Linked DNA regions of Homo sapiens. The protein of the gene in region 3 purifies or fractionates together with the protein of the main gene of each other region. This does not show direct contact. Each region holds a gene or a part of one and is shown on either strand. Other genes may lie near its edges. The genes, in order: RICTOR, ATP23, PROZ, MLF1, SDF2, INTS6 and PIP4P2.

The links.
Region 1: the proteins of PROZ (region 3) and RICTOR purify together in Homo sapiens (co-immunoprecipitation; 3 studies listed by BioGRID and IntAct, with this or other methods). This does not show direct contact.
Region 2: the proteins of PROZ (region 3) and ATP23 purify together in Homo sapiens (affinity purification with mass spectrometry; 2 studies listed by BioGRID and IntAct, with this or other methods). This does not show direct contact.
Region 4: the proteins of PROZ (region 3) and MLF1 purify together in Homo sapiens (affinity purification with mass spectrometry; 2 studies listed by BioGRID and IntAct, with this or other methods). This does not show direct contact.
Region 5: the proteins of PROZ (region 3) and SDF2 purify together in Homo sapiens (co-immunoprecipitation; one large-scale study listed by IntAct). This does not show direct contact.
Region 6: the proteins of PROZ (region 3) and INTS6 purify together in Homo sapiens (co-immunoprecipitation; 3 studies listed by BioGRID and IntAct, with this or other methods). This does not show direct contact.
Region 7: the proteins of PROZ (region 3) and PIP4P2 purify together in Homo sapiens (co-immunoprecipitation; one large-scale study listed by IntAct). This does not show direct contact.

What each region holds. Positions count from the first base shown.
Region 1 is NC_000005.10:39,063,766-39,068,269, forward strand, and holds part of RICTOR (rapamycin-insensitive companion of mTOR), read right to left. Parts: intron 1-4,504. UniProt on the Homo sapiens protein: Component of the mechanistic target of rapamycin complex 2 (mTORC2), which transduces signals from growth factors to pathways involved in proliferation, cytoskeletal organization, lipogenesis and anabolic output.
Region 2 is NC_000012.12:57,944,160-57,948,663, reverse strand, and holds part of ATP23 (mitochondrial inner membrane protease ATP23 homolog), read right to left. Parts: intron 3,037-4,504; coding exon 2,991-3,036; intron 1,939-2,990; exon of another isoform or gene 1,904-1,938; coding exon of another isoform or gene 1,833-1,903; intron 1,670-1,832; coding exon 1,588-1,669; intron 1-1,587.
Region 3 is NC_000013.11:113,168,152-113,173,394, reverse strand, and holds the end of PROZ (vitamin K-dependent protein Z isoform 2 precursor), read right to left. Parts: intron 3,594-5,243; exon of another isoform or gene 3,307-3,593; intron 2,983-3,306; coding exon 2,865-2,982; intron 2,026-2,864; exon of another isoform or gene 1,802-2,025; coding exon 1,290-1,801; 3' UTR 1,009-1,289; downstream 1-1,008. UniProt on the Homo sapiens protein: Appears to assist hemostasis by binding thrombin and promoting its association with phospholipid vesicles. Inhibits activity of the coagulation protease factor Xa in the presence of SERPINA10, calcium and phospholipids.
Region 4 is NC_000003.12:158,603,943-158,607,328, reverse strand, and holds the end of MLF1 (myeloid leukemia factor 1), read right to left. Parts: intron 2,233-3,386; coding exon 2,127-2,232; 3' UTR 1,381-2,126; coding exon of another isoform or gene 1,359-1,380; 3' UTR 873-1,358; downstream 1-872. UniProt on the Homo sapiens protein: Involved in lineage commitment of primary hemopoietic progenitors by restricting erythroid formation and enhancing myeloid formation.
Region 5 is NC_000017.11:28,655,084-28,659,587, forward strand, and holds part of SDF2 (stromal cell-derived factor 2 precursor), read right to left. Parts: intron 401-4,504; coding exon 204-400; intron 1-203.
Region 6 is NC_000013.11:51,372,282-51,376,785, reverse strand, and holds part of INTS6 (integrator complex subunit 6), read left to right. Parts: intron 1-611; coding exon 612-738; intron 739-1,989; coding exon 1,990-2,132; intron 2,133-2,346; coding exon 2,347-2,578; intron 2,579-4,504. UniProt on the Homo sapiens protein: Component of the integrator complex, a multiprotein complex that terminates RNA polymerase II (Pol II) transcription in the promoter-proximal region of genes.
Region 7 is NC_000008.11:91,016,356-91,020,859, reverse strand, and holds part of PIP4P2 (type 2 phosphatidylinositol 4,5-bisphosphate 4-phosphatase), read left to right. Parts: intron 1-596; coding exon 597-703; intron 704-2,346; coding exon 2,347-2,470; intron 2,471-4,504. UniProt on the Homo sapiens protein: Catalyzes the hydrolysis of phosphatidylinositol-4,5-bisphosphate (PtdIns-4,5-P2) to phosphatidylinositol-4-phosphate (PtdIns-4-P).

The DNA.
Region 1 (4,504 bases), on a different chromosome or scaffold from region 3:
CCATGTGATCAAAAATATACTGGTTGACATTAATAAAACCATTACAAATCCAAATTAACACAATGGGGTTAAAAAAAAAAAGGAAAAGTAATTGAAGGACGCAGATTCTTGAAAATCCAGGTAATTAAGGTTAAAAAAACGTTTTCTGTATTTCTTACTGACATCTTTAACAGGATATGTTTAAAGCATTAGAATATCCTCAATTTTATATTTTATATAAATGTCATCATTCCAGGTACATTGCTCAGTTTACGCAATCTGGCTGGAAGCCTCTAAAAGAGGAATACGAAGAATATACTTATATTTAGGTTCTCTTTCAACCCTATTACTTTGGGTATATGAATGTTATACGTATTAACTAGTTTTACACAATTATTTTCAATTTACTTTTATGTCTGTAATTTTATAACTACATTTGTTGTATGGATATAATTTTTAAGGAGCCATTCAACTTTAACCTGGCCACTGTAACAAAAAAACACAAATAACAGTATCTGTAGATGACCCAAAAAGCATTAACAGTCAACTTCAATTATTCATACAGATTAACAAATATTTTAACCTGTTTATGTTCTTCCACTAACAGTATTTGCTTAGGAAACAAAAATCTGTGCTAATAATTCAAATAAAATGTAAAAGAAAATATACATCAATCTATTGTGGGAGAGAAAAGAACATAAAATATTTTCTCACCAATATAAAGTATTTAGATTATATATTTAGCATTCTTCTACCATTATTCATCTTTTTAAGGCAGGTAATTGAGAATGGACTGTATTTAATAGCTTGGTGACAGAGGCACAGATACACAGGCAAGCAAATCATTCGCTCACCCCACTGTGCTTTTCGCAGTCTTATTCTTGGTAGCCTGAGACCTGGGAGCGGGAGGAGGCAGCAAGTCACTGCAGGTGGATCACTTAAAAGGAAATTGAGAGTTGACTGTAATTTAAATTTAAAGTGCTATGAAATACCACCACTCCTACATGTATTCATTATTGTTTGTGGGACTACTACTCACAGTGATTTAACAAGGCTACAAATGCTTTCTTTTTAACCTTTTCAATATTCCAGGTCTGTAGTGATATGTGAGAATTACAAAGGTAGGAGGCTAAAGTGCTGCAAGTATAAAGTAGTATGCATTTTAGAGGTGAGGAAATTGAAGCCAGAGAGGTTAAATAGCATGCCATATCTTCCTCAGATTAAAGCAGAACCTCGTTCTCTGGACTTCAACTTCAATGCAACAGTCTAGCAGCCCCTTCAATTCAAAACTCTTCTCCTGGCTTATGTATCAGGCCATTCTTGCATTGTTACAAAGAAACACCTAAGACTGGGTAATTTATAAGAAAAGAGGTTTAATTGGCTATCATTTCTGCAGCCTATACAGGAAGCAGGGCACCAGCACTTGCTTCTGGGATGGCTTCAGGAAGCTTTTACTCATAGCAAAGACGAAGCGTGTGCAGGCATCTCACATGGCAGAGCGGGAGCAAGAGGGAGCTGGGGGGAAGGAGCCACAGGCTTTTAAATAACCAGATGTTGTGAAAACCTACTATCACGAAGACAGCACCAAGCCATGAGGGATCCACTCCCATGACCCAAACACCTCCCACCATGCCCCATCTCCAGCATTGGAGATTACAATTCAACATGAGATTCGGGTGGGGACAAATATCCAAACTGTATCATTCTGCCCACGGCCCCTCCCAAATCTCATGTCCTTCTCACACTGCAAAATAAACTCATGCCTTCCCAACAGTCTCCCAAAGTCTTAACTCATTCCAGCATTAACTCTGAAGTCCAAAGTCTCATCTGAAACAAGGCAAGTCCCTTCCACTTATGAGGCTGTAAAGTCACAAATAAGTTATTTACTCCCAAGATACAATGAGGATATAGGCATTGGATAAACATTGCCATTTCAAAAAGGAGAAATCAACCAAAAGAAAGGGGCTACAGGCCCCATGCAAGTTCAAAACCCAGCAGGGCAGTCATTAAATCTTAAAGCTCCAAAATAATCTCCTTTGACTCTATGTTCCACATTCAAGGCACACTGCTGCAAAGGGTGGGCTCCCAAGGCTTTGGGCAACTCTGCCCTGTGGCTTTGCAGGGTTTAGCCCCCAGGAATGCTCTCACAGGTTTTAGTTGAATGCCTGTGGCTTCTCCAGGTATAGGATGCAAACTGCCAGTGGATCTACCATTCTGTGGTCTGGAGGATGGTAGGCCCCTTCTCACAGCTCCACTAGGCAGTGCCCCACTGGGGACTCTGGGGGGCTCCAACCCCACATTTCCCCTTGGCCCCACCCTAATAGAGATCCTCAATGAGGGCTCCACCCCTGCAGCAGGCTTCTGCCTAGACACCCAGGCTTTCTCATACATCCTCTGAAATCTAGGCAGAGGCTCCCAAGCCTCAGTTCTTGCACTCTGGGCACCTGCAGGCTTAATAATACATGTAAGCCATCAAGTCTTATGGCTTGCACCCTTTGAAGCAGCAGCCCGAACTGTACCTGGGCCCCTTTGAACAAGGCTGGAAGCCTGAGTGGCTGGGATGCAGGGAGCAGTGTCTTGAGGCTGTGCAAGGCAGCAAGGCCCGGCTAGCCCAGGCCCACAAAACCATTCTTTCTTCCTAGGCCTCTGGGCCTATGATGAGAGGGGCTGCTGTGAAGGTTTCTAAAATGCCTTGAAGGCCTTTTCTCCAACTTCACGGATATCAGCACTTTGGCATGTGTTTAATTATGCAAATATCTCTAGCACGTGGTTGCTCTATAGCCTGCTTGAATTCCTCCCCTGAAAAAGCTTTTTCTTTCTTTGCCACATGGCTAGGCTGCAAATTTCCCAAACCTTTATGCAGTGCTTCCTGTTTAAAAACAAATTCCAACTTTAAGTCATTTCTTTGCTCCTACATCTTAGCATGGGCTGTTAGCAGCATCCAGGACACATCTTGAACACTTTGCTGCTTAGACATTTCTTCCGCCAGATACCAGAGGTCATCACTCTCAAGTTCAAACTTCCACAGGTCCCTACAGAATGAACAGAATGCAACCAAGTGCTTTGCTAAAGCATAATGAGGGTGACCTTTGCTCCAGTTCCTACTAAGTTCTTCATTTCCACCTGAGACCTCATCATCATGGACTTCATTGTCCGTATCACTACCAGCATTTTGGTCACAACCATTCAACCAGTCTCTAAGAAGTTCCAAACTTTCCCTCATTTTCCTGTCTTCTGAGTCCTCCAAACTCTTCCAACCTCTGCCTGTTACCCAGTTTCAAAGCTGCTTCCATATTTTCAGGTATCTTTAGAGCAATGCTCCACGCCCACTTACCAATTTTCTGTAATAGGCTGTTCTTGCACTGCTATAAAGAAGCATCTGAGCCTGGGTAATTTAAAAGAGGTTTAATTGGCTATTGGTTCTGTAGGCTGTACAGGAAGCATGGTGCCAGCATCTGCTTCTCGGGAGGCCTCAGGGTGTTTCTGCTCAAGATGGAAGGTGAAGCAGGAGTAGGCATCTCACATGGCAAAGTAGGAGTGAGAAAGAGTAAGAGGGTAGGTGCACACTTTTAAACAACCAGATCTTGCCAGAACTCACTATTGCAAAAACAACACCAAGCCATCAGGGATCCATTCCCATGGCCCAAACACCTCCCACCAAGCCCCACCTCCAGCATTGGGGATTACAATTCAACATGAGATTTGGGTGGGGACAAATATCCAAACTGTTTTAGCTTAAGAGATCACAATTTTCTCTCTTCTCTTCTATTGACTCCTTTCTTCTTATTGATTCCTACCCTATGATATACACCCTCATCATCTTATCTATTTTCATACATTCAAATCTTCAGCTCTTTTTCCATTTATATCCCTTTTCTCAACATCTTACACACAGAACAATCAGACTAGAAATTCAGGGCAACTAAAACCTCCATTCCAGTATTTGCTGCCACCTTTTACACATTTATATAATCACGTGAAATTCAAGGTGCAAAGCTGAACTCATTATCATCCTTCCCAAAATGACTTCTCCATTTTATGGCACCATCAATTTCATTGTCCCTTAGGACAGTAATCTTAAAGTACTCTTTTCCTTCTAATCTCCTTAATACTGTACTATTCTTTTTCCCATGTCTCTCACTCCCTTCTTCCAGTCAATTAATGCCTCAGTGATTATCTGATGGATGCTGGGGGAAGCGGATGTTAAAAATGGGTAAAACAGGCCTCCTGCCCTCAAGAAGCTAAAGATCTAGTGAAGGGGGAAGAAACTGGACAAAGAACTAAAGTAAGACAATGGTAACTGCAATTTAGAAAATAATAAATAAAGACGTAAAAAAGCAGAGAAGGAAGCAATAAATTCCCACTGGGATAAGGAAAGATCTCCAGAAATGGCATGTGACCTCAACCTTAAAGAATTAGGACTTCTATAGATAAACTGTGCTGGAAATGCAATTCAAGGCAAAGGAAATACCTACGCAAGGTCAAGCGAATATTAAACTACATGCCATGTTCAAGGAATAGCAAA
Region 2 (4,504 bases), on a different chromosome or scaffold from region 3:
TACTGAAAGTGTACATATAGATGTTTTACTCTTCTGTATGAATGAGATACTTCATAATAAAAATTTTCATTTAAAAAAATAGGCCAGGCACAGTGGCTCACGCCTGTAATCCTAGCAGTTTGGGAGGCCAAGATGGGTGGATCACCTGAGGTCAGGGGTTCAAGACCAGCCTGGCCAATATGGTGAAACCCTGACTCTACTAAAAATACAAAAATTAGCTGGGCATGGTGGCACATGCCTGCAATCCCAGCTACTCAGGAGGCTGAGGCAGGAGAATCACTTGAACCCAGGAGGCAGAGGTTGCAGTGAGCCCATATTGCACCACTGCATTCCAGCCTGGGTGACAGAGTAAGACTCTGTCTCAAAAATAATAATAATTTAAAAAATAATAATAAAATAAAAGGAGAGGGTGCCCAACTGTGTTCAACACTGCTGAGAATTAGGATGAAAGTTCAAGATGTGCACTCTGTTTAACCCTGGGGGGACCGAGAAGGGAGTGAACTTATCCAGAGCCATTTTGAGAGCTATAGGTATTGTGATTACCAGTTTACAAATGAGGAAACTGAGAAGAAGAAAAATAACTTGCCCAAGCCCCACAGATAATAAGCAAGGAAACTAGGATTTGAACTCAAGTCTGACTCCAAAATCTAGACTTCTCATCCTTGTTCTATATTGCCACTTCACATGATTACTGTAAAAATGCTATAAATAACCTAAATACATACAAAATTATCCAGCAGGAAACAGTTAAGTGTAGTTAAGTATGAATTATACATTCAAGTGGGAAACAGTTACTTATAACACCATCATTTACCCTGATCACATGACATTATCTACCACCTCCAAGACTCTGTCGAAACTCTCTGATGACTTAAAACTAATAATAAAATTTATTGAATGCTTACTATGGGCCAGGCACTAAGATAAGCAACTCTATAAGAGATATCTCATTTAATTCTCATAATCATTCCATAAAATAGATACAATCGTTGCCCAAATTGTACAGATTAGAAAACTCCCCTAATAAAAAATTTTCACAGGCAGTATCAATTCTCACCACGTAAAGGTAAAAACCCTTTAATTTAGCATTCAAAACCTCCCACCATAGGGCTTACATTTCCTTCCAATCCTATTTTCCCTCATTCCCCACATGTTCCTGCCCTCCAGATAAACTAGACAATATGCCATTCCCTACACATGCCATGCAGTTTCGTAGCATGCACTTTTGCTCATGCTGCCCCTGCTCTGTCCCTGCTCTGCCCCTAAGGAGGCTTTATATCCTCTAGTCGAATCTGTTGGCATCTTTCAATCGATCACATCACTGTTCCATTGTGGTAACCAAGCCCACCTAAAATGGTTTAGCTTGCCTCATTTTATAATTATCTGTGTTCATGTCTTATCTTTCCTGTAAGGCTGTAAACTCCTTAAGAGATTTTAAGAGTAAACTCCTTAGAGTAAGGATAACTAATTCACTTTTTTAGTCCTACATAAAGTCTACCAAACAGAATGCCGAGCATGTGGAAGATGCTCAAAAAATATAAAGAGAGAGGATTAAAGGGAAGGAAACAATTTGGCAATAATGCCTACCTGAGATGTTGAAGCATCAAAACCTCCACTGACATTTCCATTACAGTCTTCGCAAGAAAAGTGTCTATCTTTGTTAACAGCACTAAAAGGCAAGAAAAGGAGACAATGTCCAGAAACAGTGTGTATGTGGCAAACAGCCCTGGGCCAGGGCTCAGGAGACCCTCCACCATATAGTAAATCCCCTCTACTACTAACACATAGGAAATCTTGGGAAAGAAACAACATCTTCAGGACTGTTATCTCACCTGTAAAATAAGGAGGTTGTACACAAAATCCATTCTAGTTCAAATTCTATAGATATGATTCCATAAAACATTTGTCCCCCAGGCGCGGTGGCTCACGCCTGTAATCCCAGCACTTTGGGAGGCCGAGGCAGGTGGATCACCTGAGGTCGGGAGTTCAAGACCAGCCTGACCAACATGGAGAACCCCCCATCTCTACTAAAAATACAAAATTAGCCGGGTGGTGGTGGGCGCCTATAATCCCAGCTACTCAGGAGGCTGAGGCAGGAGAATCTCTTGAACCCGGGAGGCGGAGGTTGCGGTGAGCCGAGATCGTGCCACTGCATTCCAGCCTGGGCAAAAAAAAAGAGCAAAACTACGTCTCAAAAAAAAAAAAAAAAAAAAAAAATTTGTTCAACTGATTATGGCCATATTGCAAGTATGCTGGAGTTCCTGCCCTTGGGCCAGAATGTTAAGAAGTGGATGTCAGAAGTCACTTCCTTTAAACCCCTCAAAGTTATACAACATCTGCAAGGTTCCTACATAACAAGCTGAGATTTCTTTTCCATTAAAAACAGTGCTCAGGCTGGTGTAGCAGAAAGGCCAGGCTTGGTAATTACTTACAAGAAAATTTTGAGTACTGTCTTTATTAATCACCCAAGGTGAATGGTAAGAACTAGAAAATGAGCTGGGCTGGCGCAGTGGCTCACACCTGTAATCCCAGCACTTTGGGAGGCCGAGGTGGGTGGATCACTTGAGGACAGGAGTTCGAGACCAGTCTGGTCAACATGCTAAGACCCCATTTCTACTAAAAATACAAAAATTAGCCGGGCATGGTGGCGTGCGCCTGTAAACCCAGCTACTTGGGAGACTGAGGGAGAAGAATTGCTTGAACCTGGGAGACGGAGGTTGCACTGAGCCGAGACAGCACCAACGCACTCCCACCTGGACAACAAGAGCGAGACTCTATCCCCAAAAAAAAAAAAAAACATGAGTTAGGGCAGAAAATGTCCAAAGAGAACAAGGCCAGCCCGGAGACAATGCAGCCAATTACCTCTATTTACCCTATGGAAAAGACTTTGTGACCTCAGAGAAATCTTAAGCAGTTCTCTTAAGAAGAGAACTTGGTTTTTGTTTTCAGCAGCCAGACCTCAGAGCAGCACTTCAAAAAGAGTTACTTACCAACCTGAGTGTTTCATAGCATCAAGCAGAAGTTTGACATATGGATCTAAAAAAGATATTGATTTAATTAAGTAATTGGAAAAGTAGCACCAATTAAACTACCCAAATAGCAGTGTAAGATATTATCAAAAAGTAACTCACAGGCCAGATGCAGTGGCTCATGCCTGTAATCCCAGCACTTTAGGAGGTTGAGGCGGGTGGATCATTTGAGGCCAGGAGTTCAAGCCCAGCCTGACCAACATGGCAAACCCCGTCTCTACTAAAAATACAAAAATTAGCTGGGCATGGTGGCACACGCCTGTAGTCCCAGCTACTTGGGAAGCTGAGGCATGAGAATCACTTGAACCCAGGAGACAGACATTACAGTGAGCTGAGATCACACCACTGCACTCCAGCCTGGACGATAGAGTGACTCTGTCTCAAAAAAAAAGTAATGTTATCTTAAAATTGGTAAAAATTGACATGAGAGGCCAAGCTTAAATCAACATCAAAGCAAGTTTGTACTGAAATAAAACACTAATACAAATACCAAGATGGTACTACTAAGCATCTTAGACAATATCAACTATGCTTTTAAAGTTCATTTTTAGTTAAATGATCAAACACGTTGTATTACGGTATATACCAAAAGACTGAGGGAATCTAGGGCCACATTCTTAGAAGTGAACAACAGCACAGTACCTAGATTTGAGGAAGCCAGTAGCCACACTGTTCTGTCCTGATCAGATCATACCGGCAATACCATGTCCCATGCTGAGTACTACCACCTTCTAAATTGGACCTGCCACTGAAGCTCTTCCACAGGGGATGGTGACTAGGGTACTACAGACTATTTCCAGTAAGAAGCAAGAAAGGATTTGGGGGGTTGGAAAGGAGACAGAAGACTTAACTAGGACCACACTACTTTCAAGTATTGAAGGGGTGCCATGTGGGACTAGATTCAGTTAATATTTCTTCAAAGGGCAGAACAAGGACCAAAGTATGGAAGTTACATGTGGCAGATTTCAGCTCAGTATGAGAAAGGATTTTTCTCCAACAATTAAAGCTGGTGAAACAATAGACAGTAGATTGAAAGAGCCTCAAGGAACAGGTAACTGTATTCCAGGAGAGGTCTGTAGAGTATCTGGCCAGCAATAGCACAGAGGTTTCCCTGTAAGGGGACGGGGAGGCCTAGACGATTCCTGAGGGCCCTTCCACATCTAAGACTCTATGGGCCCGTGACTACTACAGGAAAGTACAAGGAGCCCAAATGCCTCTGATATTAACTTTTCACATAGGCATCTTGTCTGAGAATATAAATGCACAGCCAATTATATGATGTAACCCAAAAAAAGTGAAAAAGAAACTAAGGTTTAAAAAAAATGTTGAAGGCAAAAATAGGTGAGAAAAAGAAATGTGAGATGAGAAAGTCAGGTATAGGTTACTGCTTTACCAACCTGCCCCTTGCAAGAGTGTTCACAGTAGAATAATTATTGTTAACAATACGTATTATTGAGTGAATACCAGGTAGCAGG
Region 3 (5,243 bases):
ACTAAGAGTTAAAATGTGAACATTTATGCCATTTCTGTCCATTTCAGTGCAAATTCAGACCCTGCTAGGAGCTCCAGTCTCCAAGGACGTTTCACTGGGGGCTGGACTGCAGCTCTGTCTTTGGTACTTGCATTGCAGCTGCAGCCTTCATGACAGCAGGTGTTTACTGTGATTCAGCACGTGCTGTCCTGGTCTGTTCTACAAAATACCATGGACTGGGTGATAACAGAAACTCATTTCTCACAGATCTGGGGGCTGGGAAGTTCAAGATCTGGGTGCCGGCAGATTTGGTGTCTGCTGAGGGCTCTCTGTCTCCAGGGTAGCACCTCACTGCAGTGTCCTCGTATGGGAGAAGAGATGGAAGGGGCTGGCAGAGCCCTCATGGCCTAGTCACCTCCCAAGGGCCCCACCTCCCCATATCATCATCTTGGGGTAAGTTCCAATTTTGGAGTTTTGAAGGGACACACACTCCAGCCACAACAGTGCTGGGCGTTGCCCTAGCTGCCCATCAGCCCATTGGTGAGGTGCTGGGATTCTACCCTGGGCGACCCTGAGGCATGAAGAGGTGGAACAGTTGTCCAAGAGCCACCTGGTGGGACGAGCAGAGAGCTGGGTCTCAGTGCTCAGCCCTGACTTCGGGCCCCGGAACCTTCCGTGGGAACCCTCCCAGAGAAGGGCGGGTGCACAACCCCGTGAGACGCCGGCGTGCCTCCTCAGCCTCTCTTGTGCTCTCTGGCCCTTTCCTCTAATGCTGCCTCTCTGGGATACCCACAGGGTCATTCTCCTCCATTGCCAACCTGCTTCTAGTGGCTGCTTCTGCACTGAGCCATGGTCCTCAGTCACAGTGGCAATTGGTAAACCAACAGAGGAGGTCACTTTCTGCTGTAACCGGAGATTGTTGTCGCTTCTGCACCAGAACACACTCACCAGTGTGCAGGCTGGGGTGGCTATTCCCTGAGCACAGGGAACACTGGACTTGGAGAAGGAAAGAATTTCTGGAAACCAGGCTGCTTTATGACTGACAGATTATCTTATTTTATTATTTAACGTATCTCATGTTTTCTTTTAAGGTCTCTATTGAGATAAAGAGTTCCAGGGAAAGAAAGGTCACAGTGCTCGGTAAACAACCCAGCAAACGGCGGCTCTGCTGCTGCGTGGGCCAAGCGGGTGGTCTGGGGCTGTGACGGCCTCTCAGTGTGTGATGAAGTTTCAGCGCCCTCCACAGTGGCAGTGCCAGCTTGGAATCCCGCTTCCGGTTGTGTTGTTCATTCTGGCTAGCTGAGTTTCAGTTAGTTCATGATCTGTTTAAACCAGAGTGAGTACCTGGAGACCTTGGTGACAAGGACCATGTGAGCCTGCCCTCCTACTGGCTGCGAGCCCAGGACCCCCGTGAGAAACCAGGAGCCTCTGTGTTCTCTGGTGACCACACTTCCATCCATCCAGTGCATGGCCGCCACGCTGCTTCTCTCACAGTAGGTCCTGGTGGTGACAGTCACATTCAGGACCTGCCCGCACTCCTCCCCCTCCACAAGTGTGACAGGCCGCGTGGTCAGCGAGTTGCCCAGGTCAGTGCCATTGCGTGCCCAGCCGCTGAGGAGGCCCCTGGTGCGTGGGATGAGGAGGTGCTCAGCGAAGTCTTTCTCAGGGGTGCACACGGGGAGCCCCGCACCTGGGCACTGGATGGGCCACTCCAGCTCCAGCAGTGACAGGTCATTCTCCCCCGCGTCCGCGTCATACCGCATGTGCACATGGACGTGCGTTATCTTGATCATCAGCGGGTCTTGGCTCGTTCTGTTAAAATCTGAAATCATGAACAATCGTCAGTTCTTTACAGTCTGATTTTCAAGGGGACATAATGCTCAAACGAGCTTCTCAGGGAGCCACGTGAGGAGGGAGAGACCGGCCCTGGAGGACCCGCAGGCTCACCGCCCCGTGGTGTGGACACTGTGCCTTTCTGCGGACAGAAAGGCCACTCACAGATTGCACGATTGCAACCAAGTGCCACAGCCTTTAAAAACAGTCAAGGTTAGTTCTTCTGTTTTGGAGTGCAGTGGGGTGTGGTGAAATGATTAAAAAGCAGGAAGCAGTGATGTGGAACGTCTCCAGGCCAGTCAAACATTGGCTGTTGAGAAGTGGTTTTCACGTTATTTTGTTGATTGAAAAATATTTAAGGGCCAGGCACAGTGGCTCACATCTGTAATCCCAGCGCTTCGGGAGGCCGAGGCAGGTCGATCACTTAAGGCCAGGAGTAAAGACCAGCTTTTCCAACATAGCAAAACCCCATTTCTACTAAAAATACAAAAAATTAGTGGGATATGGTGGTGCATGCCTGTAGTCCCAGCTACTCGGGAGGCTGAGGCATGAGAATCGCTTGAACCCAGGAGGCAGAGGTTGCAGTGAGCCTGGATCATGCCACTGCACTCCAGCCTGAGGGATTGAGTGAGACTCTGTCTCAAAAAAAAAAAAGAAAGAAATAGGCACAGATAAGCCGATGAGAAGGCCACTGCCTCAGCCTGAGGTCTCAACTGCTGGGGGATTCGAGCCCCATTCTTCCGATTTTTAGCCAATTATCCATCTCTTATGCCACAACTGCTCAATTTCAGTGGGAAATGAAGTCATCCTTATGTAGGCTGTGATTTCCTCCCTTGCCGAGTGTGAGTTAGCACTTGCCTGTCGCTGGGCCCAGGCTTCTGCTGGTATTTTACATATGCTTCCTGAGTTGATAAGTATCTCAGTTTTATTGACAGTAAATTCAGTTCTATGTTGCATTAGAAACAGTCCAGTTTTAAATTTGTCATTTCATTCTTACATAGGATAGTGTATTTCCAATGTGGTTTTATAAAAACTCATGATAAAATACTTACATGTTTTTACAGTAATATTCCTGTGTAACAGTGAACATTTTGCTGTTGTCAGTACAAAATTTTCCCGTATTATAACACCACCACAGAAGTCTTTTCCTTCGGAATTTGTTAACTTTACCTTTAAAAATCAAAACAGACAATAAATAGCTGGTGACAATTTGCAGGATTAGGGGCAGTAAAGTCTACTGGATAGGGATATGGACCACCCCCCCACCCCCACCCCCACCCCCCGCCAAAGGCAGACAGCCGTATTTGATTCTTGCCCCAGCACTCAAATGGTACAGGATTGTTAACGAATTGTTGACAGTCTAAGCTTTTGTTTGCTTAGGGATTAAATGGGGCCGGCACTTCCCCTTTCGGCCCAGGTGAAGTAACAGTGATCAGATTTACCCTCCCACCTGAAGCAAAAAATTGACAAAATCTATGGAATGATGGTTTTCAGGAATCGTAATCCCCAAGAAACAACGGTCTCAGCTACTGTCCAGAATTTCCATGGTGCAGAGCAGGACGGGGCATCTCAGTTGGAGCCCTGCTGACTCCCTAAATTGAAGAGAGAAAGCTGAGAGCCCAGGGAGGCCACAGTGGCTGGAGTTTGCAGAACAGAGTCCTGCAGAACAGAGTCCGGCAGAGGAGAGAGCTTGGTAGAGAATGCTGGAGGATGGCCACATGCCTAGCAGTTTTCAGCAGAGCAGTGGTGATCACGTGTACATGGAGACTAATTATGGCCGGGTAAGAACCACCCAAGAGTGTGAGAGGGACCTGTGCTAGACACTCACACAAGCTGGGAATAGCAATTGCTTCCACCAGCTGAGTTAAAACATCCCTGACTCAGTGGGGCACGGGGCAGGATGCATAGAAGGGTTTCACTTCAGTAGTCAGAATAACTAGCTCTAGACTTGAGCGCTGCCCTGGTCCTACTGACAAATCTTAAGAGCAATGTGCCAAAGGATGAAAGTATTTCCAACCTAACTGTGTCCTAGGACAATATCCAAGTGTATGTATAGAGCACAAAATATTCAGCACCTAACAGGATAAAATTCACATGTCTGGAAATCCATTACGGCATACAAACAGGAAAATGTGACCCATAATGAGAAGAAAAATATCCCAAAACTGAGTCAGCACTGACAGATATTAGTAGACAAGGACAATTAAACAGTGATTGTAACTGTAGTCCAAATGTTCAAAAAGTTAAGTAGAGACAAAAATACGTATTTTTAAAAACCTAAATTAAATTTTTGGATGACAGCTACAATATATGAGGTTAAACATCCACTGGCCAGGATGAATGGCAGATTAGACATTGCAGAAGAACAGATTGATGACCTTGAAGGCATCACAACAGAAACTATCAAAAGTAAAACACGGAGAGAACGGAGATTTTTGAAAAATGAACAGACCATCTCTGAGCTATGGGATTTCAAACAGCTTAAGATACATGTAATTAGAGTCCCAAAACAGAGCAGGGAGAAGGAGGAGAGAAAAAAAATCTGAAAATAATGGGCCAGGCATGGTGGCTCACGCCTATAATCCCAGCACTTTGGGAGGCTGAGGTGGAAGGATTGCTTGAGCCCAGGAGTTTGAGACCAGCCTGAGCAACATAGCAAGACCCCATCTCTACATGAAATTTAAAAATTAGCTGTGTGTGGTCGTGCACACCTATGGTCCCAGCTACTCAAGACGCTGAGGTGGGAGGATCACCTGAACCCAGGAGGTTGAGGCTGCAGTGAGCCATGATCACACCACTACACTCCAGCCCAGGCAATAGGGCGAGACCCGGTCTCAAAAAAAAGAAAATTATGACCAAATATTTTTCAAATTTGACAAGCGATATTAGCCCACAAATACAAGAATCTCAACAAACCCTATGTGCAAGAAACATGAAAACAATACACAGTATAATTAAATTCAAAATCCATGATAGAGGAAATCTTAGAAAGTTAAAATTAAAAAGCATTTAAAATCTTAAAAGTGCCACAGGTAAGGACATGTGAGGAACAGCAGCAGGGTGATGGGAGCCGTCTTGTGGCACAAGGCAGACAGGAAGGCAGTGGGGCAGGCCCAAGTGCAGAGAGGAGAGGACTGCTGCCAGCCTGGGGCTCTGCGCCAGACGCAATGCCTTTCATAGATGAAGATGAACAAAGACTCCTCCAGACAAACGCAAGAAGGCTTCTTCCCCAGACGCCTCACAGCACAGCAGATATCAAAGGGGCCCTTTAGGCAGGAGGAAAACGATACCAGAGGGAGGCCTGGATTTACACAAAGCAGCAAGGAACACTGGAAAAGGTTATGACATCCCATTAAATATTTATCCGCATTCCACTATATATGTAAGGTTTTTTTCCTTATTCTTTAAACTTCTTTACAGGATACTGTTTA
Region 4 (3,386 bases), on a different chromosome or scaffold from region 3:
TGGCTCATAAAAGGAGTGGAAATAAAATATTAATCTTAAAAATAAACCATCCTACCTAGTATGTGTATATAGGTTTTTTTTTTTTTTTTTTTTTTTTTGAGATGGACTCCTGCTCTGTTGCCCAGGCTGGAGTGCAGAGATGCGACCTCGGCTCACTGCAACCTCCGCCTCCCAGGTTCCAGCAATTCTCCTGCCTCAGCCTCCTGAGTAGCTGGGATTATAGGTGCCCGCCACCACACCCGCTGAATTTTTGTATATTTAGTAGAGACAGGGTTTTGCCATGTTGGTCAGGCTGGTCTTGAAGTGACCTCAAGCAATCCACTTGCCGCAGCCTCCCAAAGTGCTGGGATTACAGGCATGAGCCACTGCGCCCGGCATGTATATAGTTTTAAATAGTTTCAATTTACAGACTAACAGTATTAAACACCCATCATAAGAAGTTGTTGCAAACAAATATTATTCTGGGGTATAGATATCGATAGTTATGTTTTTATGGTGCAAAGATAGAGTTGACTTTTAAGAAAGAAACAGAACTTTTCTCGGTACTACCATCTCAAATTCTGCCTCACCACAATCTCTAACTGCAATCTGATGTACAGGAATTATACTGTTAAACACAATTATTTATTAAAGGGTGTTTTTAGATTTGACTACAATGATTCAAGTTATCATCAGTGTAATGATTTAGGCAAAAGGAAAATCAAGTATGTACTTTATTAAGACTTTGCTCTATCAGGTTAATTTATATCAAGATGTTATTTAAAATGTGTGCCTTATGACAATTTCCCAATGTGTTATGGTATGTTAGGAGTATACTAAAGTATGCCTAAAAGGAAATTTTTAACTAATACATGCTCAATTTCAACAATGAATTAACACATTTGCATTTTATTTTAATGACTAAAGGCATAAAACACAAACTAGTAAAATTAACAAAAATATTATATAAAAAATTAGAGAAGTATGAACATAGTCATATAATTTTACTTACAAAATTGAAAAGAAAAATACTTAGGATTATAGAGTGATAGCAATTTTTGGGGGCTTTTTTCCTTGACAGAAATATTAAACAACAAATGTGAGTTAAGATTTTATATTCTTATAAACTTCAAACCTAACTTTTATAAGAACAGACTGATGCTTAAATTCTAGAATTAAAAAGCTAAAGCTGATTTTTAATGGTATAATTAAAACAGAAACAACTGAATTATTAAGACGTTGCTCAAAAACACCCATCAGCTGTCTAACAGATTTTGAGACAATGTATCATTCTGGTTTGGAGAATACCAAATGCATTTTTCTAAATGTCACAAAAAAGCTGAGCAGAGTTTCTCCAAGGACTCTCCAGCTTCAGAATGTTAACCTTGGAGACAGATGAAGCTGTTTGTGGGAAAGGAGAGTAGAAATATGCCACATTAAGAAGTTAAAGAGAATGGTCAATATAATATCTGGTGAATATTAAGAATGTAATATAGAAAAGATACATTCTATAAATAAATTATAACCAAAACAATCATGTACATTAGCAATTTAAAATATTTTTCTCTGAAAATGAACTATTTGATTATCCTTGCCCTTTATCAAAATAGTAACTATTTTCTCATAAAAGAGTACTAGTGTAGTTTTGCTTTATTATTTTTAAAGTTTTAAGCTAGTTGGCTTTACAACACATTATAAAATTAGAGATAAATTATTTAAACCTTTATTAATATCACCCTAGTACAGTGTTAGTAAAAACTGAGACTTTTTTAACATTATAATTTCTTATAACTAATTATAAGTGATAGAACTGCTCTGCAATCAATCTTGATAAATATAAAAGAATATTTAGCCAACACAAAAACAACTGGGGAAGCGAAATAAGCATATAAGCTTTAAAAAATTAGTATGTTTTAAAGAGTTTTACATTAAATAGACTCAATTTACTCACATTGTTGAAAATCAAAATTTTATTCCTAAAAGAGGGACAATATAAAGCTAGGACCTTCATGAACATTCAGATATCAGAAGAAAGTTGCCAAGGACAGAACTGATTTAACAGCAAGAGATTGGTCTTATGCTTATTACCCAGCACCATTACTAACTGTTAAAACAATCAAAACTAAACAAATCAAATGCATGGCTATTTATTTTTTGTTGCTTTTCACAGATGAGCCTTTGATGTGGAGTTTGTCCCCCAAAACATTTGATCTCCTTCCATGTTCAATGGCTGGACTTTGTTGAGGTTTCTCCCTGAGAAATATACATGTGAATATTAATATCATTTAAAAAATGGCCAATGGTTTATAAATCAATACAAACATGTTAAAAACCACTGTAATATAAGAAAAGTTTTATCTTAAAAATTCCTTAATGGCTTTGAAAAACAAGGCTGGCCAGGTGCGGTGGCTCATGCCTGTAATCCCGGCACTTTGGGAGGCTGAGGCAGGCAGATCACAAGTTAAGAGATCGAGACCATCCTGGCCAACATGATGAAACCCCATCTCTACTAAAAATACAAAGATTAGCTGGGCGTGGTGATGCGCGCCTGTAGTCCCAGCTACTCAGGAGGCTGAAGCAGGAGGATTGCCTGAACCTGGGAGGTGGAGGTTGCAGTGAGTTGAGATCGCGCCACTGCACTCCAGCCTGGCGACAGAGCCAGACTCTGTACCCCCTGCCCTAAAACAAAAAATAAAAAACAAAAAAAACCAGAAAATAAGGCAGACTATTTCAGTGAATTTAAGACAGCAACAGCTGTTTTCCTGTTAGATTTAACTGTTTATAGTTTAAACACTGTTTAATGTTAACAGTATGGTAGTCACTAACCACATTTATATTTGAATTAAAATAAAATAATTCAGTTCTTCAGTTGTACCAGCAATGCTTCAAATGTGAATCAACAGCCACATGTGGCTAGTGATTACTACACTGGACAGAATAGATATATAGCATTTTTGTCATTACCGAAGTCATTTCAGAAAATGCCATTGGACAGTGCCGGTTAAGAGAAAATGCCACTGTTAGGGCCAGAAATTTATAGGTCATCCATAAAGAGCATGCCTTCTCTAAGTGCGACCTGGATTTCCTATTCAAACTTGGCACTGCCAGGTTTTTAATCAATACATTTTTCAAATGAGACAAATATCTATAATGAATATGGGAGCAAGTTTTCAAGCAATTCAATAGAAAATACTAGGGCTCTAAATTCCTAAACAAGTATTTTAGAAGAAAAGATCCTAGCATATGAAATTCTGCATAAGGCTTCTGATTTACTTGATACTCACTTGTCCACTGCTAGTTCTGTGAAGGCTTCCACCTTCTGTAGCAATTTTCCACTTTCTTATAGCTTAGAACAGATTTCTATTTAAGGTCTGGTGAGGCCTTTGAGTGTAACTTCATAGGAATTA
Region 5 (4,504 bases), on a different chromosome or scaffold from region 3:
ATGCCACTGCACTGCAGCCTGGGTGACAGAGTGAGACTGCGTCTCAAAAACAACAAAAACCCACACAAAAATAGAGCCATTTCCCCAGGTCTGCACAAAAGAGAACATCTACACCTAGAAAAGAAACATTTAAGAACCAAGAGATCAAACAAGCACCCACTGAGTAATGCAGAGCAGCAACAATCCATCGAAAGCCACCTCACCTGGTTTCCAGAAAGAGGTGAAGTGAAGTGGTGACTATGGAGGTTTCGGCCAGTGTTGACATGTGTCAGCCGGATGGGCTGGCCACACTTGATGGGGGTTCCCCTCTCACACACTGTGGCACTCTTCCCCCGTATCCTCCAGTAACTGTTGCTGTCATCCACAGAGGTTACACCTGTCACTGACTGCTGCCCACTACCTGCAGTTAAGAAAAGAAAGGCAACTCTCTTTCTCTGCCATGGACAACATGCTCAGAGACAGAAGCTTGAGTGCGCTCAAGATTCACCTTCACCTGTAACCCACCACCATGACCAAGGAAGACACGCTGCTGGAGGTGTAATGGATATTAATACTGCTCTACAAGAGACTGAAGACCGCCCTCAGCCATGATGGCCTAGCAGGTGGAACCTGCAAAGCTGCCAAAGCCTTAGACAAGGGCCAAGCCCATCTTTGCGTGCTTGCATCCAAATGTGAAGAGCCTATGTATGTCAAGCTAGGGGTGGCCCTTTGTGCCGAACACCAAATCAACCCAATTAAGGTTGATGACCTTAAGAAACCAGAGACATGGCTAAGCCTTTGTAAAACTGATAGACAAGGAAAACTTTGTAAAGTGGTTGGTTGCAGTTGTGTCACAGTGAAGGGCTACAGCAAAGAATTTCAGGCCAAGGATGTGACTGTGTACTTCAAATGCAAGAAATTAACAAATAAATTTGGTACCCATTCCTCAAAAAAAAAAACAGCAAGTGAGCTCAGCCTCACCCTTCTTGCCTATGGCCAATATTGTGCCGTGTCATTAAACAGGTAAGAAGGGGTGGGGAGAAAAATGCTATGCTTGGCAATATTTTTTCTTCTACAACATTAAAATATTTATAAAAAATACAAATCATACTGGGCGTGGTGGCTCACGCTTGTAATCCCAGCACTCTGGGAGTGAAACTTGACCTCCCAAAGTGCTGGGATTGATGGTGAGCCACTGTGCCCAGCCTTTTTCTTCTTTTAAATAAAAAAAAAATTTTTTAGGCTGGGTGTGGTGGCTCACACCTGTAATCCTAGCACTTTTTGGGAGGCTGAGGCAGTTGGATTGCTTGAGCCCAGGAATTCAAGACCAGCCTGGGCAACATGGCAAAAACCCATCTTTACTAAAAATACAAAAATTAGCTGGGTGTGGTGGTGGCAGCCTGTAATCCCAGCTATCTGGGAGGCTGAGGTGGGAGAATCGCTTGAACCCGGGAGGTGGAGGTTGCAATGAGCCAAGATCGCGCCACTGCCCTCCAGCCTGGATGACAGAGCCAGACTCCGTCTCAAAAAAAATAAATAAATAAACTGTGTCCACGTAATACTAGTTACTATATGATAAAGTATACTTAAGGGTATGTCATATCAGAAAATTCTAAGAATTTGCATCAAAGGATATCCAAGGCACAAATCTATGTGAGTTTTTTGAGGCACAGGCAGTGGTAACCTATACACACTAGCCTGGATAGCCCCTAATGTGTCTAATCACATAATTTTAACATGTTTGTAATATTATTCATGTTCATTAACTATTATGATAAAAATTTTTGTATTTCACAATTAAAATGAGACTATGTTGCCAACTTTAAGCAGCCATTACAGCTCCCAACTCCCATAAGTGGTCAATTATTATAAACGTATTATTTAAGCAAGGCACGGTGGCTCACGCCTGTAATCCCAGCACTTTGGGAGGCTGAGGCAGGCAGAACACAAAGTCATGAGTTCGAGACCAGCCTGGCCAATATGGTGAAACCCCGTCTCTACTAAAAATATAAAAATTAGCTGGGCGTGGTCGCATGTGCCTGTAATCCCAGCTACTTGGGAGGCTGAGGCAGAAGAATTGCTTGCATCCGGGAGGCGGAGGTTGCAGTGAGCCGAGATCACACCACCGCACTCCAGCCTAGGTGGCAGGGCAAGACTCTGTCTCAAAACAAAAACAAAAACAAAACAAAAAATGTATCCTTGGAGGTCTGGCACAGTGGCTCATGCCTGTAATCCAAGCGCTTTGGGAAGGTGAGGGGAGGATCCCTTGAGTCCAGGAGTTCGAGACTAGCCTCAGCAACATAGCAAAATGCAGTCTCTAAACGTACATATATATATATGTATTTTTTTTTTTTGATACAGGATCCCTCTTGTCACTCAGGCTGGAGTGCAGTGGCACGATCACAGCTCGCCACAGCCTTGACCTCCCAGGCTCGGGTGATCCTCCTACCTCAGCCTCCCAAGTAGCTGGGATTTCAGGCGCCTGCCACCACACCTGGCTAATTTTTCTATTTTTTGTAGAGATGGGTTTTTGCCATGTTGCCCAGGCTACTCTCGAATTCCTGGGCTCAAGCAATCCAACTGCCTCAGCCTCCCAAAGTGCTAGGATTACAGATGTGAGCCACCACACCCAGCCTAAAAAAAAATTTTTATATTTAAAAGAAAAAAAAGAAGCTGGGCACAGTGGCTCACCGTCAATCCCAGCACTTTGGGAGGTCAAGGTGGGCAGATCGCTTGAGCCCAGGAATTCAAGACCAAGCCTAAGCAACTGACAAAACTCCATCTCTACAAAAGATGCAAAAAATTAATCAGGTGTGGTGGGGTGCACTTGTAGTCCCAGCTACTCAGGACGCTGAGATGTGAGGATTGCTTGAGCCCAGGAGGTCAAGGCTGCAATGAGTCGTAATTGTGTCACTGCCAGTTACACGGGTAAATGTAGCCAACTATCAGCTCCTTTCATGACTTTATTATATCTTTTTTCAGAAAAGGCAAACCAAGTCTCCCTTCCTACTTCTGGTTACTGCCTTACAGCTCTCTGGGTCCTCACAGCCACGCTTCACTAAACCATGGTCTACATTTTGTCTCCTACATTTTCTGCTTTCTATTCAACCGTTCACTTCTTCCTCCAAATCCTTATACCTTGGGATTATCCAAAGTTCTATGCCTGGCCTTCATCTGTTTCTACCTGTAGTTTTTTTTTTTTTTTTTAGTATTTATTGTTCATTCTTGGGTGTTTCTCGGAGAGGGGGATGTGGCAGGGTCACAGGATAATAGTGGAGAGAAGGTCAGCAGATAAACATGTGAACAAAGGTCTCTGGTTTTCCTAGGCAGAGGTCCCTGCGGCCTTCCGCAGTGTTTGTGTCCCTGGGTACTTGAGATTAGGGAGTGGTGATGACTCTTAACGAGCATGCTGCCTTCAAGTATCTGTTTAACAAAGCACATCTTGCACCACCCTTAATCCATTTAACCCTGAGTTGACACAGCACACGTTTCAGAGAGCACGGGGTTGGGGGTAAGGTTATAGATTAACAGCATCCCAAAGCTGAAGAATTTTTCTTAGTACAGAACAAAATGGAGTCTCCTATGTCTACTTCTTTCTACACAGACACAGTAACAATCTGATCTCTCTTTCTTTTCCCCACATTTCCCCCTTTTCTTTTCGACAAAACCGCCATCGTCATCATGGCCCATTCTCGATGGTCGCTGTCTCTTCGGTGCTGTTGGGTACACCTGCAGAAAGGCTGTCACTTCACACTTGGAAGACTGCACAGCGGCCAGGCAGAGGCGCTCCTCACTTCCCAGACGGGGCGGCCGGGCAGAGGCACTCCTCACTTCCCAGACAGGGTGGCCGGGCAGAGGAGCTCCTCACTTAACAGACTGGGTGGCCGGGCAGAGGCGCTCCTCACATCCCAGACGATGGGAGGCCGGACAGAGGCGCTCCTCCCCTCCCAGACGGGGCGGCCGTGCAGAGGCGCTCCTCACTTCCTAGATGGGACAGCCAGGCAGAGGTGCTCCTCAACTCCCAGACGAAGGGCGGCCGGGCAGAGGCGCTCCTCACATCCCAGACAATGGGCGGCCGGGCAGAGGCGCTCCTCACTTCCCAGACAGGGTGGCGGCCGGGCAGAGGCGCTCCTCACATCCCAGACGGGGTGGCGGCCAGGCAGAGGCGCTCCCCACTTCCCAGACGGGGCGGCTGGGCAGAGGCGCTCCCCACTTCCCAGACGGGGCAGCCGGGCAGAGGCGCTCCCCACTTCCCAGACAGGGCGGCCGGGCAGAGGCGCTCCCCACTTCCCAGACGGGGCAGCCGGGCAGAGGCGCTCCCCACTTCCCAGATGGGGTGGCGGCCGGGCAGAGGCGCTCCTCACATCCCAGACAGGGCGGCCAGGTGCTCCCCACTTCCCAGATGGGGTGGCCGGGCAGAGGTGCTCCTCACCTCCCAGATAATGGGCAGCCCACTTCCCAGATGGGGTGGCAGCCGGGCAAAGGCACTCCTCACATCCCAGATGGCGCGGCCGGGCAGAGGCGC
Region 6 (4,504 bases), about 62 Mb from region 3:
GATACATGAATAATGTCAATGAATCTCAAAAACATCATGCTAATTGAAAGAAGCCAAGTACAAAAGATTAGACGTTGCAAAATTCCATTTATAAAATGGAGCATAGAAAGAAAGCAAGTCACGTGGTTGCCTGGGGATAGGAATAGTGATTGACTGCAAGTGGGTACAACAAACTTGGGGATGGTGGAAATGGATTATGATGATGGTTTCACAACTATAAATTTACTAACATTCATCAAACTATATACTTAAAATAGGTGATTTTATGGTATATAAATTACACATCAAAGCTGTTTTTTAAAAAACTTCAGTTTTTAAAATTTGGAGATTGATTTTTACTTAAATGAGTTTACTTCTTTTATCCAGAATATATAATAAAATCTTTAGAGTTAGATGGTGAATTGAGATTGTTTGGTTGAGCTCACTACCAAATTTTCATCTTTTGGCCCTGAACCGGTACATTAAGATTATATCATATGTCTTTATTTTATTTTTTTTAAGCTAACCAGTTTATATATCTTATTTCCAAACCTATGCTGCAGGCTAGAGATTTTAGTCTCTTGTAATTCTATGTTTGACAATAAATTTTGTCCTCGAATGTTGTTTAATAGGATTTGAAGCCACAGACATTTAGAAATGCTTATGACATACCAAGACGAAATCTTTTGGATCACTTAACAAGAATGAGATCTAATCTTTTGAAGAGCACTCGCAGATTTCTGAAAGGACAGGACGAAGGTTAGAACATAGTTTCAATACTGGTATTTTTAATTTTTTTTCTTTATAGTCTGAAAAAGCATAGCATGGTGATGTAAATTTCAAAGAATTATTACAGTACTATAACATTCTTATTGTAAGTTCAAACAAATGAAGTAAAAGGTGAATCATCCCTGATTCTGTACCTTTCTTCCTACCATCACTGTTGCCCCAAATTCTCTTCCCTAGAGGTAACAACCTTTCTTAACAGTTTAGTTTCCTTTTATAGCTTTTCTCATGCATTCATGCGCGCACGCGCGCGCACACACACACACACACACACACACACACACACCCACTTATCAAACTGTATACTTAAAATAAGTGATTTTTCTTATCTCAATCATTTTCTTGAGATAATACCAGTATCTGATGGTTTAACTCTGGATGGCCAGTTTCATGACATTTTCTGATAATTCCTTCTTCACCTTTATCCATGGCACCTACTATAAATCAAGTCAGATGAGACTTTAAACGTTTGCCACCTCTGATTTAAGAGTTCTAACAATAATTTTATATAAAAGAGTTAGCTATGCGACTTTTTTTTTTTTTTACCATACTGTACTTCCATTTTCTACAAATTCTACTATAATTAAATTCTGTTTATTTGGAATAGCGCAGAAGAGAAGAGATACATCTTTCACGGTAAGATCACACATACTTTTTTTTTTTTTTTTTGAGTCAGAGCCTTGCTCTGTCGCCCAGGCTGGAGTGCAGTGGTGTGATCTCGGCTCACTGCAACCTCCGCATCCTGGGTTCAAGCGATTCTCCTCCTTAGCCTCCCTAGTAGCTGGGATTACAGGCACGTGCCACCATGCCCTGCTAATTTTTGTATTTTTAATAGAGATGGGATTTTGCCATGTTGGCCAGGCTGGTCTCATTCCTTACCTCAAGTGATCCGGATGTCTGCCTCAGCCTCCCGAAGTGCTGGGATTACAGGCATGAGCCACTGCGCCTGGCCACACATACTTTCTGTATGTGTGGAATTAATGGCAATGTATGTATGTGTGAAATTAATGGCAATTTTTGTTTTGTTTAGATGATGAGATCAGTATTTTAAATTTTATTTTAAAATATTTTGTCGCAGTGGTTATAATTGCACCAAACAAATTTAGAATATGTTGGTAAAGAAGACTGTCTAGAATAACACTAGGTAGCATTCATATATAAGGAAACATTATTTGAGAACTAATTGGAGGTTAACTTTTTTTGCTGTTGTATTCTTTTTGAAAGATCAAGTGCACAGTGTTCCTATAGCACAAATGGGGAACTACCAGGAATACCTCAAGCAAGTACCTTCTCCACTAAGAGAACTTGATCCTGATCAGCCACGAAGGTTGCATACATTTGGCAACCCCTTTAAGCTGGATAAGAAGGTAATTTTGAAATGTTCTATTATGTAATTTGTTTATGGTAGGCACTGTCAGTTTTATAGTTCTTAATTTAACTGAAGTAAGCTGAAGCTATTTTCCTGGTAGAGTATCTAATAAATATGAACAGAATATAGTTACCTTCATTGGAATTGACACTGGTTGTGCCATTTAAACATTGTTTGTAAATTCAAGAAAGTTGTATTCTTTTTTGCTAAAGGGTATGATGATAGATGAAGCAGATGAATTTGTGGCTGGACCTCAAAATAAACATAAACGACCCGGAGAACCAAATATGCAAGGGATCCCTAAAAGACGTCGGTGTATGTCTCCACTACTAAGAGGCAGACAGCAGAATCCTGTTGTAAACAATCATATTGGGGGAAAAGGACCACCTGCACCTACAACTCAAGCACAGCCAGATCTTATTAAACCTCTTCCTCTTCATAAAAGTAAGAATTGTTTTTTTCTTAAACATTATTTGCTGCCTTTTGGTTCCTTTTCAAGGAAGATATTTTTGTTATAGATTATAGAAGGAAATTGATTAGTAGTACAATGAGTGAATGAATGTATAGAAAATTTGTTTAAATGAGCATGTAATCATTTTTGTATGTCTTTTTAATGAACATTTGAACATTTCTTATTTATGATGCTTTATTAGCTATTATGTTCTAACATACATTTGCAAATCTTTCAAAATAATACTTTCGAAAGGAGCATTATCACTATCCACAGAAAGATGGTTTTCAATTTCAGTTGAAGTCAACTAATTATTAAATATGTATGCTATTTTGGATAATGCTGTGCTTTGAGGTATACCACTGAAGACAGGAGTGATCTCTGCCCTCATTTATAATCAGCAAGGAAGGTCAGTCATTGAACAGATATTGGAAGTATGTTGAATGTTACGAAAAAGATGTCAAGTATATTCTGGAAGCATTTGGCAAGAGGATTTAAGTCAATGAAGTCAAGGCACTTAACTGAAGAAGTTAATGCTTAAGCCAAAAGCTGTGCCGTTTGCTTATGCTGGAGCAATAGTATGTGCAGAGGCATAAAGAGAAAGACATTAAGGGAATTTAAAAAATTCCAGTATAGCAAGGGTGTTGGGAATGAGGTAAGGTGAGAACTGAAAGATAGAAGCCAGATTATGGAAGGTCTTGGAAGCTATTTTCAACTTTATTCTAAGGACAGTGAGAATCCACTGAAAGGCTTAAAATGATGGTGACCTAATCTGATTAGCATTTTATGAAGACCAGGTTGACTGTAATGTGTGTGGACTATTATCAGAGAGGAGCAAGAATGAATGTAGGGAAACCCTAATGAATTAATGGACTTATCAATTATATATAGTGGTCATACTTACAGCATGTTAACTGAAGGGAAACAAAATATTATATGACTCCTGATGGAAGTATCCAATACTGCCTTTGAAGTTGTCTTACCCAAAAAAAAAAAAACCAAACACCAAAATTGAACATCAATGTAATCAAACCAATTTATAGGAAATACAGGGGACAGAGAAACATGTGGGATACCGTTAGTAAAATCCAGATTGTAGAAAACTCTACAGGACAAAGAATCTGTTGGGTTTTTTTCCTGGAAAAAAAATATTTTTTCCAGAAAAATAAAAGGGGTACGGAAGGATTTTACAGATTCAAATGTAGTTTAAGAGATATATAAGCCAGTTGCAATGTATAGGCCTTAACTGTACTCAGAATCAAACAAAATCAAACTTTTCCACAAACAGAAAACATGTTGGAGAGTATGGACACTGACTGTATATTTGATGTTATTAAATAATTGTGCATGCACAGGAATCAGTTGGGAAACCCGGGGAACAGATGCTGCTGACCTGACAGTGGGGTTTCAAGAAGAATATGTATTTGAGAAATACCTGGACATACCACTGAAGGACTTGGTTACTGGTCAGATGTTGGGACCAGAGCAGGGGAGGAGTCAGACGTATGTCTTGAGAGACACTGGGTGGGTGGAAGAAGAAATGATAAATGAGTTTAGTTTAGAAGTGCATATTAGGTCATCAAGTGGAGATCCTAAGTTAGAAGATGAATATTGAGTTTGGGCTCAGGAGAAGAGGATTGGGCTAGAGGGGTAGTATGAGAGGCAGGTTACTGCCTATTGCACTGAATAAAATCTCACCAAGGCAAAAAGAAGAAAAAACGCTCAGAACAGAACCTTGAAAGTGCCAAAGTTAAGAGGAGAAAGCAGAAAAGGAGATTGAGAAGGAAGAATTTTAGAGCTAGGAGAAAATAGGGGAGAATTTAATGTCATGGAAGCTAAAGGGCAAGATAATTGAGTGGGTAGTTGTCCCAAATACTTTAAAAAAAAAAAAAAAACTGTTCAATCAAGAGAAATGGAAA
Region 7 (4,504 bases), on a different chromosome or scaffold from region 3:
TGAAGTTATTTTATGTCTGTAGGATGTCACTATTGTTTTTCTGGGCTTTTGTGATTATGCATTTATTATTAGCATCTGTGCCAAAGTGTTTACAAATAGTTTGACATTTTATTCAATTTAGTTGATAGTAATTTAGGAATGTTTAAAATATTGAATAACACCTTTCCTTTTTTAAAAATTGAGCTTTGGGGAGCAACTAAATTTTCAGCAGTATTTTTATAGCTTCAAGTAATAAACTGGTAAAGCATACACTGGTTTAGATGAAATATATTTCTTTCATAGTTAGGCTTTATATATTACATTTTGATCTCTCAAAATCTGCAATTAAATATTAATTTTATCTTTGATGTTTTATTTTTTTCTCTTTAGAAAAGACTAAAAAAAGTCAGCCAGTGATTATTGTGTCTTGAAGGACCACAAAACATGAATACTTGACTTCATATGTTTTATAGAAAAATCATAAAATAAAACCTTAAGTTACAAAAGCAATATATTTCATTAGTTTTAATGGAATCCTTTCCTTTTTAAACACAAACAAACTTTGACAATCTGTACTTTGGTTAATTGCTGTGTTTGCATTTTCTTCCCTTATCCAGCCAATCAAAAACCCCCCAACAGGCAAGAAATATGTTAGATGCCCTTGTAATTGTCTTCTCATTTGTAAGGACACATCTCGGCGAATAGGATGCCCAAGACCCAACTGGTAAGAGATAAAGATTAATTCATTGATTCATTCATTTGTTCATTCAACAAGTATTTACTAAAGGTTCTTCAGTGCCAGGCTTTGTTCTAGAAAGAGTTTTTGTTTTCAAAGTCATTCCAGAATCTAGATTATTTTTTTGTTAAAGGAATGATAAGCTTAGTTTGAACTTAGTCATAGATATTTGTAGGATATAATATTCTTAAATGAGCAATGAATGTTTTCTTTGTGTTATGTAAGTACTTAATGCACTGTAATAAATCAATGACACATTGAACGTATTTAAAAATAATGAGGTCAGGCCAGTGGTTCATGCCTGTATTCCTAGCAATTTGGGAGGCTGAGGTGGGAGGATTGCCTGAAGCTGGTAGTTTGAGACCAAACTGAGCAACATAGTGAGACCCCATCTCTACAAAAAATTAGCCAGGTGTGACAGCATGCACCTATATTCCCAGTTACTTGGGAGACTGAGGCAGGAGTATCATTTGGGCCTAGGGATTAAAGCCTTCAATGAGCTATGACTGTGCCTCTGCACTCCAGCCTGGGCAACAGAGTGAGACCCCATCTGTTAGTCTCTCTCTTTTTTTTTTTTTTTGAGACAGAGTCTCAACGGGAAGAGTCTCAAAAGAGTTGGCTCACTGTGACCTCTACCTTCTGCCCTGAAAGCCTTCCCACTATAGCCTCCTCCTGAGTAGCTGGGACTACAAGCACACACCACCACTCCCAGGTAATATATTTTTTTTTTTTTTTTTTTTTTTTTTTTTGTAGAGACAGGGTTTCACCATATTGCCCGGGCTGTCTTGAACTCCTGGGTTCAAGTGATCCCAAAGTGCTGGGATTACAGGCATGAGCCACCATGCCTGGCCCATCTCTTAAAAAAAAAAAAGTAATCACTTAGTTTACTTTTGATATAATTAATCTTCACCTGCAAGTGTTTTAGTTATTTTTGTGTATCTCACTGTATATTATACTAATCTCTGCTGAATGTATATGTGCAATAAATTCTGGAATTATTCGCTCATGCCCAGTACCATTATGGATGTCCCCAGATACAAGTATATAAAGGCCTTACTTGTGTTTTTTTTCTGTGATCTCTCTAGCTTTTTGACCATTACATGAATCATGTACAGCCCTATCCAATGATAGACTAGAGAATAGAAATGAAAGCAGGATCCTGTTTGCTTTCTTTTCATCTCTGATTAAATACGCATCAAGGAATATCACACTGCTCAGAGAAATTTGGTTGTAACCCAGCCCTTCGGTGCCTTCATGGCACAGAGATTTTTGTTGGTATAGAATATTTTTAACTTAGTCTTCTACCAAACTCAAGTTGGCTTCCTAGATAAGGAAGGGTAACAACTGTTTTCTGATTTGAACTTACAAAAACTTGGAAATGACAGTTAAATGGTTGCCATTGATTAGGACCAATGCTATAATATATTGTTTCTATCCCAAGTACAGACTCATATTTTGCTTTTGAAAAACTGACTGTTGCTACTCTTTGTAGTTTTGCCTCCAGCTTGACATTTAATTCACTTAATTTATGAAACAAGTATAGCACATTTCATATTTTTGGCCATATGTTGCAGGTTTTGCTCTCAGTCCATTTGTGGGATAGTGAAGTTGTTTCCTTTCTCTTTTCACAGTAGACGGATAATTAACCTTGGCCCAGTAATGCTTATTTCTGAAGAACAACCAGCTCAGCCTGCATTGCCAATCCAACCAGAAGGTACAAGGGTCGTGTGTGGGCACTGTGGAAACACATTCCTGGTAAGTCACTGGACATTTGTCATTAATCTGTAAATATAGGTCATGATCTTACAGATTAGAGCACTGCTCATAGTCTTATAGTTTTGTCCAAATGCAAATTAATCAAAATATTAAAATAGAGACTTATTTAGGCAGACAATCAGAAGTGCAACTAGGATATAGAGCATCTTCTGTGAACTAGATAAAAGGTACGTCCTCTGATAAGTCCAGTTGCAAAAAGGATCCTCTCTATGTAGGCCAATGAGAAATCGTGCCCAGGCTTAGTTCCATGAGTATCTTGGCTTGGGGAGCAGCTGAGTCTTAGCCCTGCTCTCACCTGCTCAGCAGAGGTCAAAGTGCACAATCTCATGCAGTAGATTTGCTTCATGGCTTCTAGATTGAGGAAAAATTTGAATAATAATTTATCAAAAATTTTCTGACTTTTATAAATTATTCTTGGAGCAAAGGGAATTAACACTGTTACCCATAATTAGATAAAACCATTAGATAAAGAATAAGAAAGTATAAGTAATTTGATATGAGCAAAAGTTATAAAAGTTTTTGTTTTACTACTTCTAACTTAAACTTAGTTTGATTTTTTTTAAAGTTAAATTCATAATTAACTTACCCTGTCAGGAAGGATAAGGACAGGTTTTCTTTTATTGTTCAGCCCATATAGGAGACAAACATTTTCTTTAGAACTTGAATATGAAAAATATTTATCAGAGTATACACATGGGAGTCTAAACAAAACCTGCTGTCACTAAGACATGAATGAGCTTAAGAAAATATAAGTGGTTTGCTTTTTTTTATTTGTAATTTTACTTTTATTAAAGAACTTTATGTATATAGTTCTAAATGTCAAATGGGACTGCAATCTTCTCATCTAGCTGACCCCTAGTTACTGTTCCCAAAATGCTTTCAACTCTTTCAGCTACTTTATTGATAGTCACTTCTATGTGTTTATTTTTTATAATTTTTAAATTTTTATTTATTTATTCATTTATTTTTTGAGATGAAGTCTCACTCCGTCGCCCAGGCTGGAGTACAGTGGCGTGATCTCAGCTCACTGCAACCCCTGCCTCCCGGGTTCAAGCAATTCTCCTGCCACAGCCTCCCAAGTAGCTGGGATTATAGGTGCACACCACCACACCTGGCTAATTTTTGTATTTTTAGTACAGATGGGGTTACATAATGTTGGCCAGACTTCTATGTGTTTAAATTGCTTATCCTTTTTCTATTTGATTAAGCAATTTTAGACATTACCCACTAAATAGTAAACTGCAAAATGAGAACTTAGCACTTATACTGCCCTCCCACTCATATTCCTTTCCTTGCTTTCATACTCCCAGTCAAATTGCAACATTTTGTTTAATTAATACTTAGTGTTTACAATTTTTATGATTAGGTAAATTTTGTTCACAGCTGAACCAAGCAATGTGGTACATTTTTCTTGTGCATGCATTTTAACATTTTCTTGGACTTACAAATAATTGCCCCCTCCTTTGGATTTAATTTTCTATGTGTAAATCATTCATTCTTCTCATATTCTTGTGTAGAACTATAAAATACCTATTACTATAATTAATTGCATCAAGGAATCTCTTATTTAGGCTTCCTGCTACATAGTTGTCATCCTTCCCTTCACCATCATCATGAAAATTCCTTTTACCTCTTTCCTGTGTTGGATCCCATGCCATCCTCAGAGTTCTTAGTTTATTCCTTCATTTTGGTGGAGCACATCTACTCTTTGCTTTCTGAGAAAAGATGCAGGGAAATATTATATTTGAGCTCTTTTTCTCTTAAGTGGTTTTTAATCTGATCTTACATTCACTTTATAATTTGTCTAGATGTGCAATTCTAGGTTGCCAGTTGTCACCTTTCAGAAATTTAAAGTCTTTGTTCCATTGTTGATGAGAAGATCAACAGCTATTGTGATACCTGATCCTTTTGATATGACATATTTTTTCTTCTTTTTCTTTTTCCTCTTTCATTTTCTTCAGTGTTCTGAAATTTCATGAGTCTATGTCTTCGTGAGGGTCTTTTTGAACTCAT